2 separate regions of the Homo sapiens genome follow, and region 1 is linked to region 2. A link means that fine-mapping ties the variant in region 2 to the expression of a gene that starts in the linked region. Tissue or cell type: whole blood. Region 2 holds a variant in brackets; the other region holds the start of a gene. All regions are shown on one strand. Distances are between the middles of the regions.

Region 1 (5,385 bases), 41 kb after region 2:
GGTATAGGCCACCATGCCCAGCTGAGAAAAACATTTAAATATCAGTTTAAGAATGTGTGATGGGAATACACAGCATTCTTTCAAGGGGCATCTCAACAAATTTTAAAAAGAACACTGTGGCCCACTCCAGTGCTATGCATGAGAATATGGTGATTTCTCAGCTTCAGGCGTTCAAATGTGCCATTCTCCCATGGAAAGCCCACTAAGTCCCTCAAGCTTCACCTGAAATACCATTTCACTGAGAAGTCTTCCTTGTCTCCAGACTAAATTAGATTGCCTTGATATATGCTCCCAGAGAACCAAGAATGTCCCCTTTTCATCCCACAGGTAACTCCTTGTTAAATGTTGTACAAGGAAGGCATAGACAGAATTCACCTTTCACTGTTCCACTGGTGCCCAGCAGGGTATGCAAAGGAGGAAATCAGCTGTGCTCTGAAAGAAGCACCATTCCAGTAAAGGGGAGGAAAAGGTCATCAGACTGCAAGGGCTCAACAAAAGTACAAGGTAAGGAGGCAGAGGGTGTGGGCTGATTATCAACTAAGAGGTTTGCACGGAAAAAGGGAAAAAAAAAAAAACAGAAAAACAGGGCCGGGTAGTGGCAGAAAGAGAGGGTGGATCTGTGACTGTTCGCAGGAAGAGAGGAGCGGGAGCAGGACAGACAATAACTGATAGTCAGGAGCTGGGTTTGGAGATAAAGAGGGAACAAGAGAAAGTTAAGTTCTGTGTTTTCATGGCAAACATTGCACAAAAGTTTACAACTTCGTGACTAACAGTAATCTGGGGTGATTCACAACAAATTTACACATAAACACATATTTACTGACTTTATACACAGCAATCCTAACGTGAACACAGAACCTGCTTTATCTTTTCGCACACTGTTCTAGTGTAGAGATGTCTGGTCTCAGTTAAAGAAAGCATAAGGAGCATTAGTTGTGCACACTGTCCACACCTGTGACTTTTTTCCACCAGTACTAAACCTAGTGCTTCTTACAGTACAGGACAATGACAGCCACAGAAAGAGAGAAGCTCCTTTTACTGTGTAATGCTTCCTGCTGGCCTTCAAATACTTGTTACTTGAGAGATCTCCATTCACCTGGCTTTGTCCCCAAAGGTCATCATCTACCAATGATGTTGTTATTTGATGTTAATCATGTATAAAGAAAGTAGCTACCATCCTGGCCCTGATTAGAACTTCCCACTGAAATACCGTCCTGCCTAAAGGTAGCACAGGCTCCCATTATGGTGGTGGTGGGGAGGGGGCGGGAATATATATATATATATATATATATATATATATATATATATGGTAAAGCATTCGGCATTCTTTTAAAGTACAACTATCCTTGAAAAGGGTTACATATTAAACCATTTTTACCACAGCCAAAGGGGAGGAGAAAGATCCAAAAGTCCTGTGGATCTGCTTTAACATCAATAAAACAGTTATCCACCCTTCGTAGCTTTTAGTGAAGGCTACAAAAGTATGCTTTTTATGGATTACACATGTGCACGCAACTACTTTAATTACTACAGAAAAAAACGAGGCTCCTTATTAAAAAAAAATCAGAAACAAGTCCAACAGACTCTGAGGAAATGAAGCAAGAGTGAATTCTGAAAAGGTCTAATAAACAGTATGGAAATATCCTTGTGGGATTGTTCTTCAGCTATGCATAAACATGTAATTATCATCATTACTGTGATGGGGAAAAACACGGACCCTAATTCTGAAACACCCTGGTAGCGAGAGACGGGCAGGAGGGGCTGCTGCGCACTCAGAGCGGAGGCTGAGGAGGCGGCGTCCCCTTGCAAAGGACTGGCAGTGAGCAGATGGGGACACTCGAGCTGCCCCGCGACCTGGGCCGAGCTGCCTACAACCTGGGCCCAGGTGCCTGCAAGAATTAGACCTCCGATAACGTTAACACCCACTTTCTCACTGCTCTAATTGTGTGCATCCCGGCGCCCAGGGGCTTGTGAGCAGCAGGTGCGCGTTCCAGGCAGCTCCAGCGACCCTTAAACCTGACCGCGCGCACGTCCGGCCCGAGGGAGCAGAACAAGAGGCACCCGGACCCTCCTCCGGCCAGCACCCACCTTCACCCAGTTCCGTCAGTCGCCACCACCTCCCTTCCCGCGTCCGCAGCCGGCCCAGCTGGGGAGCATGCGCAGTGGCCGGAGCCGGGTTGCCCGCGCCCCAGCAGGTAGCTGTACTGCAACTGTCGGCCCAAACCAACCAATCAAGAGACGTGTTATTGCCGCCGAGGTGGAACTATGGCAACGGGCGACCAATCAGAAGGCGCGTTGTTGCCGCGGAGCCCCCTGCCCCGGCAGGGGGATGTGGCGATGGGTGAGGGTCATGGGGTGTGAGCATCCCTGAGCCATCGATCCGGGAGGGCCGCGGGTTCCCTTGCTTTGCCGCCGGGAGCGGCGCACGCAGCCCCGCACTCGCCTACCCGGCCCCGGGCGGCGGCGCGGCCCATGCGGCTGGGGGCGGAGGCTGGGAGCGGGTGGCGGGCGCGGCGGCCCGGGCCCGGGCGGTGATTGGCCGCCTGCTGGCCGCGACTGAGGCCCGGGAGGCGGGCGGGGAGCGCAGGCGGAGCTCGCTGCCGCCGAGCTGAGAAGATGCTGCTGTCCCTGGTGCTCCACACGTACTCCATGCGCTACCTGCTGCCCAGCGTCGTGCTCCTGGGCACGGCGCCCACCTACGTGTTGGCCTGGGGGGTCTGGCGGCTGCTCTCCGCCTTCCTGCCCGCCCGCTTCTACCAAGCGCTGGACGACCGGCTCTACTGCGTCTACCAGAGCATGGTGCTCTTCTTCTTCGAGAATTACACCGGGGTCCAGGTGAGCCGCCTCCCGCTCCCGGGTCTCGGCGTCCACCCGAGCTCCCGGGGGCGCGGACCTCTCCGCTCCCCCACAGCTGGCGAGGGTCACCCGGCCGGCCCGGCGGACCCAGCACGGAGAGCACGTGCCGCCTCCCCGCCTTCCTCTCCGCATGCTTCCTGCCGTTCTGCCGAGATCGCTCTCTAGGAAGCTGTGGCTGCGTCGTCCTGAGGCTACGAGTGGGACCCGCCGCCCCTTTCCCCGCCCCTCGCCTGGGTCTGATGCTGCTTAGCAAAGTGGGTGCAGATGCACGTTTTAAATAATAGGGCACGCGTTTAGCAGTTTCTGGCCTTTGGTCCAAAGAGGTGGTCATGTTGGAACAGATCGGAGACGTCTACACTCCGAAGTGCGCTTTTACAGTGACCTCTTGAAACAGAAGTACAATTCGGTCTTGTGTTCTTTCCCCTGGACAAGTGAAAGCTGGGCGAAGAAATGAATACATTTGTTAACCGTAGAAGCCTAACTAGATACATTTCTTGCCAACTTTAACTGGGCTTGAATGTGTGGGTGATCTGTTGTCTGATTACTTTCTTTCTGTTACTGTTTCTCTGTAGAGATTGGATTCGTAGATTAAACTTGAGAAACAAACCATAAAAGTGGAAGGCCCTCTTTAACAGTAGGTATTTGAAGTGTTATAAAAAAAAAAAAAAGGTGAATTTTTCTTTTATTTCTCAGTTTGAAAGAACAGCTTTATTCTTGGTTATTCCTAATGTCCACCTAGTCCTCTTTTACTTTTCTTGGTAGGGTTAGGGTGGCATGGGGAAATGGGACGGTATCATTTTGTCTTTTTAACTTTTTTTTTTTCCACCTACAGCAGCTGTTTTTACCCTGTGGTCAGTCAGGTACTATATTTAGTTTGCAGTTGCACTGCTGATCGACCCTTGATGGCCCCAGTTGGAAGTTGTTTGGGGGGAAGGAACTAGGAGAGGCCAGGGCCTCCATTTAAACCAGTGTCTGTAAGTGTCTCCTTGGAAAGAAAAAAAGATACTGTTCCAGGTCATGGTTTCCTGGTAGTTGACGTTTAAAATGGGCCTCATTTAAAAATTTCAATAATTCAGGCTAATTTTTTCCCTTTATATGGTAACTCCACCAAGTTTGTCTAAATGTATGATTTTTATCATGATTAAGTTTTTACTTCCACATCATGTGACAACTGGCCTGGGATGGGATATAAGCTCAGAACACAAAGTCATTCACCTCTTAAAAAAATAATTCTATCTGTGGCGGGTTATGTTATTTTTGTTCAAAGAGGACACAATATGATGCAGAATACACCATTGAAGGATTTTTTGGTTTGGCAAGTTCTTATTTTTTTAAATGGCTGTAAAACCTAGCAGTGTTTCTGAAATTGCATACCTTACCTGATGTTCAGAGATCCGATTTACTTCTTGATTTCCCAGCAAGTGATTTTGAAAACATTTAATCTAATCATTCCCCCCACCGTCTGTTCAAATCAAAGGAAGTGGCATCCAGCACTAATTTTCATGCATTTATGAAAGGATGCCTGAGGACCCTTAAGTATAATTCAAAATTTTGTTTAATGTGTGTTCCTTGATGAAGTTCTTTAGGAGTCGTAGAACGAACTGATTGCCCACTGATCATCAAATGCAAGTTATGAACATTTAATAAAAATTTAAAACCAAGAGTTTCTTGTTCCTGCATTTTTATTTTTATTGTATGGAGGGGACAAATAATTATTTTCTGTTTAGTAACAGAGCAGGGTATTTTGAATTTATTAGGGTCTTTTTCTGCAATCTGGGTTTCCTGTGTACACAAAGCTACCTTTCAATATTTTTTATTGTTTCTGTTAAGATTAAATCAATAGAGGAATAAATAGCTATCTTCAAACATAAGACCCAAAGGAAAAAGATTTATAGTGATGTTCTGTCACCTTATTTTTTACCTGTGACTTTGTACCATTAACTTTGTCACTGAGATGTTTTGATTAAAATTTTTAGCTTGCTTTTCTTGTTTTGTTAGGACACTCTTTTTTTCTTGAATTGTTTTTATCAGCTTTCGTTTGCAAGGCTAGTGATGATTCTCTTGTTCTGTATAAAGTATTGTTGACTCATTTCTGAAGGGAGTTTTAGTAATTTAAGAGGTTATAAGTTTTTAAATAAAAGGTTTATTAATTTATATATATTAAAGAGGCATTTTAAAATAAAATTTTTTTTAAATGACATTTTTACACCTTTCAACTCTAGGTTTAAAAAATAAGTGGTTCACAGTAGTTCTTGCAGAAGAATATTTTCTTTTACATAGAATTTTTAAGCTGAAGAGAAGTAGTAGTAGGTCCATGAGATTTATGATCTGTGCTTGGCAGGTAAACCTGCTTCCAACAAATTTAGTTGGATTTTTCTTGGATTCTGGGTAAATACCTTTTTCTTCCCCAATTTCACTACTTTATTTTCATATGTATCTCTGAGATAGAGAAATATTTCAGTCAGTGCTGCTAAAATTGTTCCTTATAACTCGTTTATCCTTTTAGGTCCTTCCAGAATCTCTCATTGG
Region 2 (5,385 bases):
CCCTGAGGGAAGCTATAGAAACTAGAATTCTTCCTCTCCCGAGGTGAGTCATAAAAACCAGAACCCCTTTGCCTCAAGGCCAGCCATAAAGCCTAAAAATATGACTCTAGCCTCCCCCTGCTTTTCTGTGTAACAGCTGGCAATAAAGAAATTAAGACCCTCATTGTAGAGGGACCCTACCCTATGCCCAGGAGGAGGGAATGTGGCACAGAGAGGCTGAGAAAGATCTGAACGCAGAGGCCTTGCTGAGTTTCCCCACACCATCTATTACATTCGATCAGGACCTTTCTGTCCAGTCTTACATTTCGACATGGCTGGCTGTGCTTCATCAAATCTAAGTATAGAAATGCACAGTTCACCCTGTATCTTTGGGTCTTCATTCTGAAGGTTCCCACATCACATCAAACTATGATGAAATAAATGTGTTATACTTTTCTCATGTTAATCTGTCTTTTGTTATAGGGGCACTGGTATGACCTTTATGATGGAGAAGAAAGTGATTACCCCCTTTCTGCCTCTGCAGCCACAAAACAGATCAAAACCTATTTCAGAACAAGCTAACAGACTCTAAGAAAATTATGTAAGACATGAAAGTATGTGAATTGTTACAGCAATCAGAAAAGAATTAAAAAATTTAAAAATGCATTTTAGGAGCAAAGACTAAACAACAAATAAACACAACATGTAATGCCCTAAGAAAAACAGAGGGTGAAAATGAGGAAAGTTTTCTTGTGTGTTTGTTTGTCTGTTTTGGAGACAGAGTCCACTCTGTTGCCCAGGCTGGAGTGCAGAGGCACAACCTCAACTCTCTGCAACCTCCACCTCCTGGGCTCAACCAATTCTCCTGCTTCAGCCTCCCGAGTAGCTGGGATTACAGGCATGCACCACCACGCCTGGCTAATTTTTTTTTCTATTTTTAGTTGATATGGGATTTCACCATGTTGGCCAGGCTGGTCTTGAATTCATGATCTCAAGTGCTCTGCCCACCTCGGTGTCCCAAAGTGCTGGGATTATAGGCGTGAGCCACTGTATGCAGCTGATAATGAGGAAAGTTTTAAAAGTAAAAAAGAAGTGAAAAAAAAATATGTCAGAAAAAGTGGAACATATTGAAGACAGGCAAAGGAGATAGAACATAGGAGGTCTCGAGGAAGATACCAATGCAAAGAAGAAGACTGAATACTAAAAACGACAAGAACTATACCACATTTTTAACACTGAATTTAAAAAAGGATTTGAAGCTACATATTGAAAAATTATACCACACACTCGAAAATATTGACCCCAAATGGTAAAATTACCAAACTTAAAAAAAAAAAAGAAAAAAAATCCTTTGAACATTTTATTAGTTACCTAGGGCTGGCATAACAAAATACACAGCCTGGGTGGCTTAAACAAGATAAATTTGTTTGCTCACAGTTCTGAAGGCTGGAAGTCCAAGATCAACGTGTTCGCAGGGATGATTTCTTCTATGGCCTCTCTCCTTGGCTGCAAAGGGCCATCTCATCCTGTCCTCATATGGCCTTTCCTGTGCACCTGCATTCCTGGTGTCTCTTCCTTTTCTTTTAAGGACACCAATCATATTATATTACCAGCCCCTCTTATGGCCTTAATTACCTCCTTAAAAGCTCTGTCTCCACATACAGTCACACTAGGGATTAGAGCTTCAACTTATAAATTTGGGTAGGATGCAATTCAGTCTACAACAGATATCCCAAACAAGTGTGTAAGGTATAAGGAAAAAAAATTAATTATCATCACGCTTGTCGACAGCAATGCTTTATGCTATGAGAAAATGAAATAGCATATTATTTATTTAACATACAATATTTATATACAAGATAAATCATACAGAATACAAATATACAGTAATGCAAATATATACAAATAAATAATACAAATATCATATGTTATTATATGCTATTACAATATACAATATTAAAATAACATATAATAATTAACATACTCAAGGAAAGAATATATGAAACAAGAATTTTATATCTAATTAATAAAAGACAAACTTTTATCAACATGCCAGAACTCAGGGACTATTATTGCTGAGTCTTTCCTGAGAAATCTAGTCGACATCAAGCTTCAGACAATCAAAATGGAGAGAGAGATAAGTGACTTATGCAATGGTAGTAAGTAAATAGGTGGTACGCCTAGGCAACATAGGAAGATCTCATGGAAAGAAGGAAGAAGGGAGGAAGGGAGGGAGGAAGGGAGGGAGGGAGGGAGGGAGGGAAAGAGAGAGAGAAAGAAAGAAAAAAAGAAAGAGAAAGAAAGAAAAAGAAAGAAAGAAGAGAGAGAAGGAAGGAAAGGAAAGGAGAGGAGAGATAAACTCCCAAATTTTTAAATGGTCAAAGATAAAAAACATTTTATGAAAACATAATCTGCTAATTAGAGGCTGCAGTGTGCTATGATGGCACCACTGTGCTACAGCCTTGGCAACAGAGCAAGACCCTGTCTCTGAAAAAAATTTTAAAAAATAACACATTAGACACAGCTCAAAAGAGAATTTGTAAACTGGAAATTATATCCAAAGACATTGCTCAGGATGCGTAACAGAAAGACAAATTAAAAATACGCAAGAGAAGTTAAGAAAATGAAAAATAAAGTCCAACATATATTCATTTTAAGTTTCAGAATTAAATAGTAGAGTAACAGCAAGACAGCAGTATTTAAAGAATATTTAATAGACTAAGAAATAATGGCCAAGAATTTTTCAGAGTTCAGGAAGCAATATAATATATCAAGCAAGAGAAATAAATTAAATTCATACATGATGAAATACATAGATGAAATTCATAAATAGATTAAATTCATACATAGATAAAATAGTGAAAAAACAGATTATCTACAAAAGAATGTCAATAAGACTGACAGGAGTCTTTTTAATAACAATGGAACATGGAAGAAAGTGAAATACCTTCAATGTGCTAGAAAATAATTATAGATTTAAAAATCACAAATCCAGTGAAACTACCAAAAATGAGGTAGAATAAAGGCACTTTGAGATAAACAGAAATTGAGACTGTTTGCCACCA[A/C]ACTTAAAGGCACATTTAAATGATGTACTTCAGGAAGAATGAGACGCTCCCAGAAAGAAAGTCTGAAATGCAATGACGTTTGGCAGCTAAACAAAATGGTAAACATATGACTAATCTAAATACATATTAAGCAGATACTGATAATTACACAATCTGTGAGGTTAAAAACAGAGATTGATTCAAAATATTGTATCCCAGTAGCACACAAGCTAGAAGCAGTGATCAACGGAGGAAAACCATTCTAAGACAAGGTCTCCAACCCCTGGGCCACCAACGGATATGTTAGGAACTGGGCTGCACAGCAAGAGTTAGGAGCCGTGGGCAGGCAAATGAGCGAAACTTCATCTGTATTTACAGCTACTCCCCACTGCTCACATTACCACCTGAGCTCCACCTCCCATCAGATCAGCGGTGGCATTAGATTCTCATAGGAGTGTGAACCCTATTGTGAACTGTGCATGCAAGGGATCTAGGTTGCATGCTCCTTATGAGAATCTAATGCCTGCTGATCTGTCACTGTCTCCCATCACCCCCAGATAGGACCATCCAGTTGCAGGAAAACAAGCTCAGGACACCCACTGATTCTATATGATGGTGAGTTGTATAATTATTTCATTATATATTACAATGTAATAATAATAGAAATGAAGTGCCCAATAAATGTAATGTGCTGGAATCATCCTGAAACCATCCCCCTGCACCCTGGTCCATGGAAAAACTGGTCCCTGGCGCCAAAAAGGCTGGGGACCACTGTCCTAAAATCTTTGTGTTATTCAGAAGGATGGTAAATAGTCCTTCACTGTAGACTGTTAAGTATATATAAACAATTTCCAAGATAATCATTAAAAGAAAAGAAGTATAATACACATCTCCCAAAGCTGTAAAGAAAAATAAATGGAATACAAAAGCAAATGAAAAATTGTAGCTGACACTGTCCTTTGAGCAAACAGAGGTTTAGAATTAGTCAACCAATAAGCCTCTTGAGATTTTCCATGAGAGCTTAGGATGGTATTTGACTGTTTAGAAGAGGCACGCGAGTGGCTGTCTTTTTGATAGACAAAGAGGACAATTAAACGGAAGGAACAGTTCCTTAGGCATTCCTAGTTGGAGCTGTAATTTATGAACATTTGATACATCCCCGATTATTCAAATATTTTGTATTAATTTTTAAATCTGCACCCAATTTAAAAGTTCCATGGGTAGCTTCAGCAGGGAAAATGGACTTTTGATGGTTACATCCTTCTCTCCACCACCCCATCTCCTGCCCCCGAATCCTCCACTGCCCCCCTCGCTGTCTGAATGATGCTTATGGGAGCACCTGACGGCCAGGCAGGGCAGTGCTCCTGTGTCCAGGACGGGGGCTGCTAGTGGAGACTGCTTAGACATTTTAACAGTGAGAAAAGATATTTTATGTTTGGAATTTAACAGAGATTTTGGTTGATAGCATGAGGGCTCCCTTTAGCCCTCCTGATCCTCTAATTCAACGAGAAAATTTCCCTCACCATTTCTCCCCAGTCACAGTTTCTTTGTATTTTTCCAAAATTTTAACTGAGTTATCGGTTGTCTTCTTCAGTTTTACATTGTAATTTTGGCAGATAATTTCTTTGGCAGATAATCCAGGAGATAATAACTCCTGGACCAGCGGATTTTACCAAGAGGTTCTCATTTCTTTGGTTCTAGAGAACAGCCGCAAAATGTCAAATCCTCTAGTCTTTCTGACCAGCTGGATGCCATAGTTGTTGACAGACTGCTGCCTAGAAGTAAAAGAATTCAAAAGAAATCACTCATTTCTGCATCTCAACAGTTACAAAACACCAACAGCCCCCAAATTACAGGGTGTTATATAAGTCAATGAACCAAGCATTTGGGATTCTACAGAAACACTGTCTCAGCGGGTACTGGCTTCCTGGCCTGACCATTATATAACTATTATCCATAGCATAATTGAGGTGCTGTATATTTGAAATAAATGATAAAAAAATGCTGTAGATTATCCGTTTTTCTTAGCCATTTTTTCCAATAAGACATAGCCCACAGGGCCCTGGATAATTAACCTAGGCCTCCTCCATTTTTTTGCCAGGCCATTTAGACTTTCTCCTAAACTGACTACTGGCCTGAGGGAGGGTGTGGAGATGGGAGGAGCTGGTCCCATTGGGTGGACACTGTGTCGAGTTGGGAGGAGGGTCTGTGGCCTCCCCACAAGAAAGGCACCTTCTCTCTGCAGCTCCACCCACACCCTTTAGAGGGAGCAAGAAAAGGAAGCAGTCAGGCAATAACTGAACCCCACTGGCCTGCAGGGCAGCCAGTCAGTGGGCAGACATAGGGGCCATAGTGGGCCAGG

What was found.
Region 1: it holds the start of MCPH1-AS1, and the variant in region 2 is fine-mapped to the expression of MCPH1-AS1 in whole blood (TOPMed, PIP above 0.99).

What each region holds. Positions count from the first base shown.
Region 1 is chr8:6,706,053-6,711,437 of GRCh38, forward strand. MCPH1-AS1 (MCPH1 antisense RNA 1) reads right to left here and starts at 2,157. Exons shown (of 5, transcript NR_125386.1): 1 at 2,089-2,157. It overlaps AGPAT5 (1-acylglycerol-3-phosphate O-acyltransferase 5), which reads left to right and starts at 2,590. Exons shown (of 8, transcript NM_018361.5): 1 at 2,590-2,835. The coding sequence starts at 2,617. RefSeq lists silencers at 2,344-2,683, 2,744-2,983.
Region 2 is chr8:6,665,443-6,670,827 of GRCh38, forward strand. All of the region lies in intron 1 of MCPH1-AS1 (MCPH1 antisense RNA 1), which reads right to left. Among named protein-coding and RNA genes, the nearest start is that of MCPH1-AS1, 40 kb to the right of the region's middle. RefSeq lists enhancers at 123-222, 363-412. The variant A/C (reference allele first, on the strand shown) is at 3,045.